2 linked regions of the Homo sapiens genome follow. The protein of the gene in region 1 purifies or fractionates together with the protein of each later gene. This does not show direct contact. Each region holds a gene or a part of one and is shown in the gene's direction. Other genes may lie near its edges.

What was found. The genes of interacting proteins can lie anywhere in the genome.
Region 2: the proteins of NEK7 (region 1) and ANKS6 purify together in Homo sapiens (affinity purification with mass spectrometry; 3 studies listed by BioGRID and IntAct, with this or other methods). This does not show direct contact.

Annotation. Positions count from the first base shown.
Region 1 is NC_000001.11:198,295,639-198,301,187, forward strand, and holds part of NEK7 (serine/threonine-protein kinase Nek7), read left to right. Parts: intron 1-1,488; coding exon 1,489-1,602; intron 1,603-5,549. UniProt on the Homo sapiens protein: Protein kinase which plays an important role in mitotic cell cycle progression. Required for microtubule nucleation activity of the centrosome, robust mitotic spindle formation and cytokinesis.
Region 2 is NC_000009.12:98,778,532-98,783,055, reverse strand, and holds part of ANKS6 (ankyrin repeat and SAM domain-containing protein 6), read left to right. Parts: intron 1-482; coding exon 483-589; intron 590-2,718; coding exon 2,719-2,867; intron 2,868-4,524.

The DNA of each region.
Region 1 (5,549 bases):
CACTCTGCAGTACTGAGAAAAAGGACTATAATGAACGCCTAGAATATGATAATGAATATATGTACATTTACTTAAGGTTTTGCAAACACGGAGAGACTATAGTTTATATATACAGTGTATTTTTAAGGTAAGATCTTAAAGTGTCCTTGCATTTAAAACAAAAACCACTATTATTATTATTATTATTATTATTATTATTATTGTGGTTCTTTTAGAAATTTCCTCTCAGAGTGTTTTATATGATTAGGGGCATTCAGATTGTTTTTAACTTTTTTCTCGTCATGTGAAACAACTCTTCCTAAGGTACTTCTATATAGTTGTGTGCACGTTTTATGTAAAACATAGGCAAGATAAAAATGTGTTGAGCTACTTTCCAGTTTTGATTTCCAATCCCATCCCCTTCTCATCAAGGCTCTGAAGGAGTTAAAGCTCTGTCTGGAGCACAGAAGACAGATGAGAGCCATTTTCAGCTTGTCCTGTCCCCACTGACGCTCACTGAGTAGCACAGCATGGACTAGCGTGTTTCACACACACTCTGCCTGTCTGGGGAATGTACACATTGTCCTTCCAAAATCAAACTTATTAGCACATGTAGAAAAGGGTGACTGACTTTGGGGCAGCCTGGCACTCCGTGTTGTATTCTTGCTGCTGTGGTTCAAAGATTTAGAAGGTTTTGAACAGGATGCGAACATTTTAAATTGAATTTTTAGTTTGTAACACTGCTTACCACAGTACTTGCTTGCACTTTAAATGTCAAGTTAGAACCTTGTCTTAAAATAAATTTAAATTCGATAATGTCTTTTTTAAAGTTGTTCATCCTTTGGGTCGTGTTTTTCTGCATAAAAATCTCATTTGGAAGCCTTGAATTACAGCTATGACTCATAGAGCTTTTGAACATATTTAATTTAATGTTTTTGAGACATTATCAAAAGAGTTCTAATTCATTGTAAACTATTTGGGGATCAGTTATTGCATTTAAATTGAAAAGACTGCTTTTTCTCAGAATAACCTTTATCTTCAGAAACTATTATGCAAGAGAAAATGCTCTGCATTCTCTTCCCTATGCTAGATTATAATTCAGTTTTAACTTCAGTTTCATGTTTGTTCTGTATGGTTGAGCTACACCTTGTGATGACTGTTTTGTTGTGAGATATAGTAGTTGTTTTTGTGTCATTATAGGTACAAAGAGTTTTTAAATTATGTGTTATTTTTCTTTATTGTTTTATGTTGCATTTGTATATAAAGAAATATGCTAATTCTCTATTTTAGGGAATTTTAAATGTTGGAAAAAAAATAACCAAAAGTTGCAGTAAGATTTTTAACTCTTAATAAATTTCCTCAGAAGGGGATATTCATAAAAATCAAAATGCCCAGGTATCTCTATTTAAAATATTTGTGATTATTTTCTACCCCCGTATAATATACTTGATGAAATCACCTTTTAAGTTACCATCTAACTATATCAGTTTCATTGGGGGCATTTTACAGATGGCTGCATTACAAAGTCCTTTCTATGGTGACAAAATGAATTTATACTCACTGTGTAAGAAGATAGAACAGTGTGACTACCCACCTCTTCCTTCAGATCACTATTCAGAAGAAGTAAGTCATTTTCAGCCCACATGTTCTTCTGTTGTCCATTTTGCTAACATTTTTATTTTACCAAGAAATTTTACTTTATCCAAAAATGAAAATGAATGGTATAGGTAGCAGAACTAGCACTTTTTAATTCTGTTTTCATTCTCTTGGAGACTTGCTGTCTAAAGAGTTGACTCTGCAATTGATAATGTGTAGTGCAACACAACACAGCATGTGGTGTAAAATTGGCCACTTTCTAGGTGTGATAAGAATAGTAGCTGACTCTACAGTGTACTGAATCGTGCAAAGGGCAGAATTAATGCTCATACTTAGGCTCTAGTTAATCATCATGTCTGATGGCCCTTCCTAACAGGGCTAACTCCTTATTCTCACAGTCCCAGACCAGACCAGCACACAGTTGTAATTTTCTATTTTGGCAGAACTTCCCTTTCGTCCATGTTTTCCAAAACTCGAAACACGCATCTCTTAACTACATATCTCTGAGCCTTATTATTTAAGCTTTACCTTCTCTCCTTTGACAATACCTGTCCTATCATCACCTCACTGCTATACTCAGATTCTACTGGGGAAATGTTTCGAGGTTATCATTGTAGACATGTTTAAAAAGTGTGTTAGTTGTGGCTGAAAATCTTAGAAGGCTACCTTATTAAGATCTGAGTCTGAATGCTTGCTTGCTTGCTTTGGTAACCCATTGAAGTGAGTTGTTTTGGCTCTACCCTATGTCCAGTCTTTCATTGAACAAAACATCTCCCATTTTAGCCTAACGTATCATCATTTTACGAATATTTAAGGAGGATGTATGCAGAATAGCAGTATCTCAGGTCAACTAAAATGTTTCATATTAGCTCTTTATGGAATACTCATCAGGGACCTACCCAGAGAAAATAGTGTGTTGAGTTAGGACATCGCACCTTCTCATGAGCAACAGATTTTTTGCCTCAGGAAAATGGAAAGGAGAAAAGGAAAAATATAAAACAATTATAATGTTCACTTATTAGGTAATCATGTCAGTCTTTCTATTGTGAAACGAATAGCATAGGGTCTTAGTATTATGTAAGGAAATTTGAGTTCGTGTAACTTGAATAATAAATATCTCTAAAGAATTTTCACCACATGTAAAGCATTTGTGTTCCTAGAATATAATAGGCACTTTTTCTTCTGGTAGTTTTGATACTGATAATCAGTGATGCCTGTTTTTTTCTGCATAGCATTTGTATTCAGGTAATTAGAATAAACTGTTACAGAGCAGTGATGATAATTTAAAAGTATTATCTTTATTTGATGTTAATACTATTATGTTAGCCATTTTTAATTACTATTTTGGGTATAGACTATAAATATGGCATTTCACAAAACCAACTTCAGAACTATAGGCCTGGAAATACAGTGGGGTGTGAACAATAATGCAAAATGATAGCAAGAATGTCAGGGGCCTTTCTTTGTTGTGTCATTCATGCTGTCTTCTTTTTTCCATGAAGCGCATGAATATTTCACATATCTGCATCCTCATCCCCTATTCTTCTTGACTAATTTTCAGACTGTCTGAATTTGCATTTCACATGGTAGCTGATTAGGAGATGCCGAGTGCAGCAGTGAAGCCTCAGCAGGCGGTTACCATGGTGACCTTCAGCAGGATTTTAATGATGATACCACTAGTGGTTCGTTGAAGTCGGCCTGCCTGCAGGGCTACTTCACTGCAGCTAAGTGTGAAGTTGGATATGCGGATTCTCAGCCAAGGGGCAAATATCAAAGTCTGGCCCAGATAGAAGGTCTTAGAGTTGGGAAAGGAAAATAGATTCCACTTTTTACTTCACTCTATATAGTTACCAGTTTCGAAAAGAGCTGTAAAGCAAAACACATTATATGGTGTACTTTCCAAAAAAATGTGATTCCTCGTATTGGTAAAATGTGTTGTCATTCCCTGATGAAATAGAAAGCTGTAGTTTCTAGGTAAATGTGGAAAATAATTCTTACTAAAGAAATGAATATAAAAATATGCGGACTGTATAACAATGTTACTTTAATCTATTTAGTTATGTAGAAGAGTTCTCAAAACAAGAGCTTTGAAATGCAGATGTGCTAATAAATATTTTCTCTCCTTAAGCAGGAACTCAATTTGTAAAATAATTATTCAGAATTCATGGTAGCCAAAAATCCCAAATTTGGTAGTGCTATAATGTCTTAAATTTTTTAAGTAAAGTAGGCTTTTTAGATCTTTTAAAAATCTAGAATATCATTTAATTTGTTAGTATGGCAAAATACAGGAACTAATAAAAAGTGAAGTACAGAGTTTTTCAACAGTGAACTTTTAATTAAAAGACAGTTTATTTTGTTAATTTTATAGCTACAATGATAACAGAGTGTGTAACTATTTGAAAAATAAAAAAATTTAAGCAAATCAACTTATCAGGTATGTATTTATGAGCTTACCAAATTTGTGTAGCTACTGCCAAATTTTTAAGGTTACTGCCCAAACAAGATTTTAAGGGAGGATTTCATGAGAATACTAGCCATACCTGCCAGTCAGCCTCAGTTGATAGGAATCCTCAGGAACCCTACACAATTTATTTCTAGATATAGTCATTCTATCTAAGAACCTAGAGTTTAAAAGCTTGGGATTTTTCTTTTAATTTCCTATCTTATATTCTAAAACATACATAACAATTAAGCATTAAAACAAAAAATGAGAAGTTTTAGAAAAATAAGCCTGAATGTCAAATCTTTTCTTTTGAATTATGTGAGTCTTAGTGTGTACAAATAATTAGGGTTCTGGATTGAAATATTTCAGCTACACATAAGTGATATTAGGGAATCTATATTTTATGGCTGACTTAAATATATTTATTTCTGATTTCTTTTGATGTTTTGTATTTTCTCCTTTTCTAGTAATGATCTCATCCATGTATCAATGGGCAATTACTATGTTTAGCAAGAGTCCTGGGTTGAAAAGATAGATATCTTTCCTTAGATGTCTCTTAGTTTAAATGAAACTTGGTATTGTTGGTGACAGTGAAGCAAACATTTTCTTATGTATAAGGAATTGTGACTCAAAAGGCCCGTCGTAAACTGACCTGGGCTCATCTCTCAAGAATTATTGATCATCGGATATTCTTTTCTTCTTTCTCTAACTCTTATCAATGCAAGTTCTACTAGAAGTTCCATAAATTTTCATGCTTTTATAGATGATGTTTCCTCTTTCTGAAATACCTCTTTTTCCTGTTCTTTCCAAAGAAACTCACTCTTTTCCTTTCAAACATAGCTTGGACATAAAGTTTTCCTGCACAGTTTTCCCTGACATCCTTTCTTCTCTCCCCATAGCCTCCTCCCTTGGCAGTTACGCCATGTTGTAGTAGCTTCCTTGCATGGATGCCTCCCCCTGCAGACTGTCAAGCTCCTGCCCTTGAGGATCAGTAACTCTGCTGCTTATCTGTATATCTCTAGGGCCTGGGGCCTGACACATTTTAAAAGGCTTAGTAATTGATTGATTGATTGATTGAGGGAATGTGGCAGGAATCTCAGAGTTAGATTAAAGGATGAACCAATAAATGACAATTGAATGAGTGAGAGAAACTTCTCCAAAGAACTCTCTGTAGAGTAAGGCAGAAAATTACTCACAAGATAGGCCAGAGGATGTGATAGTTTTCTTTTATTGATATTACTTTCTATTTTACATAGGCATCATTTTCTCTGTAATGCCAGGTGTCCATTTACTGGGAAATAAGATAAATAGACTGTTTTCCTTCCATTTCAGTATTTAATTTCTTTGAGAGACATTGGAGTAGTCATCAAAATTATCTATTTGTTCACAAACTTATCTCATGAAACTCTAAAATAGTAAATAGCTATATTGTTAATTATTTTGAAATTTAACTGATACTGTTAAAATGTCAGCATTAATATCAAGCAAAATATATACTTCGTTTCTTTCAATACTTTTTATTTGTTATTAA
Region 2 (4,524 bases), on another chromosome or scaffold:
GGAGTGCAGTAGCGTGATCATGGCTCACTGCTGCCTTGACCTCCCAGACTCAAGCATCCTCCAACCTCAGTCTCTCAAGTAGCTGGAACTACAGACTTGCACCACCACACCTAGCTAATTTTTAAACAAAATTTTTAGTAGAGACAGGGCCCCCCATGTTGCCCAGGCTGGTCTCAAATTCCTGGGCTCAAGTGATCCTCCCACCTTGGCTTCCCAAAGTGATGGGATTACGGGTGTGAGCCACCACATCTAGCCTCAGTCTTCATTTTGTTCCTGGAAGGAACACTTAGACTTTGATTTAAATCATGTTCCCGCTTGACCTGCCCACGTGCTAGGGAATGAGAGAATGTGAGACTGTTTGCCCTTCCATGTCCTTCTTAAATGCTCAGAGACTGAGCTTTGTAGTTAATGTTGGTTTTGTTGCCCAGGAGCAAAGCCATGCCTTTGCTTTCAGTGAATGTAACTCTAGCATTTTTTCCCAGGAATAAGGAAATTGTGAAATATCTGCTAAACCAAGGGGCCGATGTCACTCTTCGTGCAAAAAATGGATACACGGCCTTTGACCTGGTGATGCTGCTGAATGATCCCGGTAGGTAATTTCAAGAAAAGGGTTGTAAATCTACCCAGCGTTTCTTGGACTGGGAGTCAAGACAGGCACCTCCTCTGTGACTTGTGTTTTAAGCACTTGCTTATTCGTGGGGGAAAGTCACTCTCAAGTGTCAGGAGCTTACTGCATGATCTTAGGCAAGTTCCTTCCCTCCCCAGTGAAGCGCTGGACTTGGACCAGGTGGCCCCGGGGACTTCCTCCAGCACCAACCTCCTAGGAGTCTCTAGAGAGGGAAGGAAAATAAGACGTGTCTGACTTTGCAGTCCACACACACCCTAGAATGGCATCTGTGCTTCACAGCCAGAAATCCTGAGTCACTCAGGTGGAAACATAAAGTCCCCTTTGATAAGCAGAATGGGAGATAGAGCGATGGCCTTCTCAGCTTAATTGTGTAGGTAGAGGCTGCAGGGTCAAGGGTCGTGTACTGGGAATGTAGCCGTTAGTTCCACCCCATTTTGGCCTCGGCTGGTACCTGCTACTCCCCTTTGACCCTCCCCTGCTGTGACAGACCCTCTTTTGGGACCTGGGCTTCCAGTTAGCCAGCTCAAGGGGAAAGGTCTCTGATCTGTCGTCTTTCTTATCAACCTGGAGTTTCAACCCAGAGAGAGAGAAGCCCCGAGGCCCTTCTGACCCACTGGGCTTGAACCCTGTGCTGGGATTCTAGCTGTTGGCTGTGGGGAGAGAAGACTTTCACCTCTGCAGTCACAAGTCACCTGCTGCCCCTCTTAGCTAGAGGGGTAGCCAGCAGGCATGCCCTTCCTCGTCACAGCACTGCCACCCTTGCCACCCCTTCCCTGCTGCAGGCCCCTGCACTTCACAGATGCACACTTGGTTCTGTTTGACCCTCAAAGAGGTCTGAGAGGGGAAGCAGAGGTTCACATCCTCTTGAAGAGATGAGGTCGCCAAGACTCGGGAAGTGATCTGTCCCAGCCAGAGGGTTGGAGTCCTGTGCCCCAAGTCCAGTGATCCTACTCCACCTCATTGGAGACCTTCTTCACTTGCCAAGAGTTTGTTATTCGGAATCAGTCCGCAGCCACTCTCGCTGGATCTCATACACACTTTTTCTGAGAAACTCATCTTTTCAGTGTTCCTCTTCTCCCTAGCCTCCACTGCCGTTTATTCCCTTTCCCAATAAAACAGTCTATTCCTAGGAATATTTTGCCTACTGGGTTTTTAAATGAAGTGTTTACACAAAACTTTTGAAGAAACTCATGCCTATTATTGAATACTTGGAGAGAAAAAAGAAATAACCTGGCGTGGATGGCTCACGCCCATAATCCCAGCACTTTGGGAGGCTGAGGTGGGTCGATCACTTGAGGCCAGGGGTTCGAGACCAGCCTGGCCAACATGACGAAACCCCATCTCTACTAAAAATACAAAAATTAGCCAGGCATGATGGCGGGCACTGTAGCCCCAGCTACATGGGAGGCTGAGGCAAAGAACCGCTTGAACCTAGGAGGTGGAGGTTGCGGTGAGCCAAGATTGTGCCACTGCACTCCAGCCTGGGTGACAGAGCAAGACTCTGTCTCCAAAAAAAAAAAAAAAGAAATAGTCATCAAGAAAAAGCATTGTTAATAGTTTGGAGTAGTTTCTTCTCAATCTTTTTTGCAATGCTTTTTTTATATAACTGAGTTGGGTTCCTAATAACTTCATAATACTTAGTATTTTTAAAGCACTTGTATTGCTCTAAAGGAATTCCCGTGAATTGATAAGATACCTTTATGTGGTGGGTATTAATGTCACTGACTTGTACAGACGCACAAAGAGGCTTTGTAATTTACCTGCAGTTACACAGCCAGGGAGGGACAGAAGCAGAATCTGAACCTCTGCAGCCTGGCTGTGAAGCCTGCACTTTTAAACACACTGTCCCCCTGCCTTCCTCATGAGAGAGGACTTCCGGTTTTTCTTTCTGGTTAAGTAGGTTAAGCCCTGCTGGCTTTGTTTGCCACCTTTTGAAGATCAGATGGAGAGGCAGGTGCCTTGATTCTGGAATTACACAGACCCTGGAGCTGCAGGGCTGAGTTCTAAGTCTAACAGGGGTCATCTTGAGTCTTCTCCTTATGGCCCAACAGACATATTTGCAGGTAAAATGATGCCTTTTGTGTCCATAGACACGGAACTTGTTCGACTGCTGGCATCTGTCTGCATGCAGGTGAATAAAGACAAAGGCCGGCCGAGCCACCAGCCTCCCCTGCCCCACTCGAAGGTCCGACAGCCCTGGAGCATCCCAGTGCTGCCCGATGACAAGGGTGGACTGAAGGTTTGCCTTTTCCTGTCTTAAAGGGGCTTGGGGGCTAGGGAGATGGGGGCTGGCGGGGAGCCTGCTGCCTCCTATGCACCCAGGCTGGTTTATGCTAGGGAGTCCCTGCAGGGGTGGCAGGTGAGCTGGCATTGAGCAATAGGAAACAAAGGGGACCAGGAAAAACTGGGGAGACTGTGACCATGTTGTGGCAACAGTGGCTGCTTTGTAAGAATGTGGGTCCACGCGGCCGGGCACGGTGGCTCACGCCTGTAATCCCAGCACTTTGAGAGGCCAAGACGGGCGGATCACGAGGTCAGGAGATTGAGACCATCCTGGCTAACACGGTGAAACCCCGTCTCTACTAAAAATACAAAAATTAGCCGGGCATGGTGGCGCACGCCTGTAGTCCCAGCTACACGGGAGGCTGAGGCAGGAGAATGGCGTGAACCCGGGAGGCGGAGCTTGCAGTGAGTCGAGATCGCGCCACTGCACTCCAGCCTGGGCGACAGAGCGAAACTCCGTCTCAAAAAAAAAGAAAAAAGCTTGAGCCTGGTAGGCTGTGGTTGCAGTGAGCTGAGATCACGTCACTGCACTCCAGCCTGGGCGACAGAACAAGAACTTGTCTCAAAAAGGAATGTGGGTCCATATTACTAGATCTCTCTCTCTTTTTTTTTTAAAGGAAAAAATAGAAATCCAGATTTTGATATGGAATCTTAATTTATAAGTACAGGGAATTTTAGAAAATTCTGCATGATGTAGTACTGAGCTGGCCAAAGCAAACACTTCTCTTCCCAAGGAATCCGTTTGCAGCCTCTGCTTTACTGTGCAGGATATTTGCTGATCATGCCACTCTGGGGTCTCCCTGCAGTCCACAGGCCCTGCCAGCTTCCTGGAAACACCAGAAACAAGCTCTGGTGGCTGCTTGTAACTGCAAGCTGAGACTTTCTCTTTGGATTTCTCATCTTCCACATCCTGCTCTACTTGTTTGAAATCAAACTTACTTTATGCCTGAGAAAACAAAACAACACACTGGTCTTGTCTGCTGACCTCCCCAGTCTGCATGGGGTGGTAGCGCCTTCTGAGGGCTGCAGACTCGGCGCTCCTTTTGTGTCCATTGCTGGCTCAAGCTCTGCATCCTTCCTGACTGTGTTGTTCTCATAGCTCCCTTCATTCCTGCTCTTACTGCCATTTCCACAGGCAGGCCCTCACAGATGCCCTTCGTGGCTGTTCATTAACCTCTGAGTGGTCATGGGTTACAAGCGTTCCCAGGAGGTAGTGCCTGTCCTCTCTAGGTGAGGCTCAGCTATAGGAGCAGCTGGCCCAGGCCCTGGTATAGAGATCCTGATGCCTCTCACGTTATCACCAGAGCAGGAGGAGGGAGATTATGCTATTGTAGACGCTTAGGAATCTGGAGCTGCCTCTGTGTCCATCTGTCCCTGTCTCACTGTAAGACCTCAAGCAAGTCAGCAATCCTGTCTGGGTCTCCATTTCTCAATCTGTGCAATGAGGAGATTGATTAGATGAGGGGTGGCAAATAGGGTTCACTGCCACCTCCAGGCTATTGGAAGTGACTGCCTAAGGGCTGGGTCAGGAAAGATTTAGTGAGTAACCATGGCTTATTGGGAATGGGTGCTATCATTGATCAGTAATGTCTGTCTGGGCCCCAGGAGAGGGG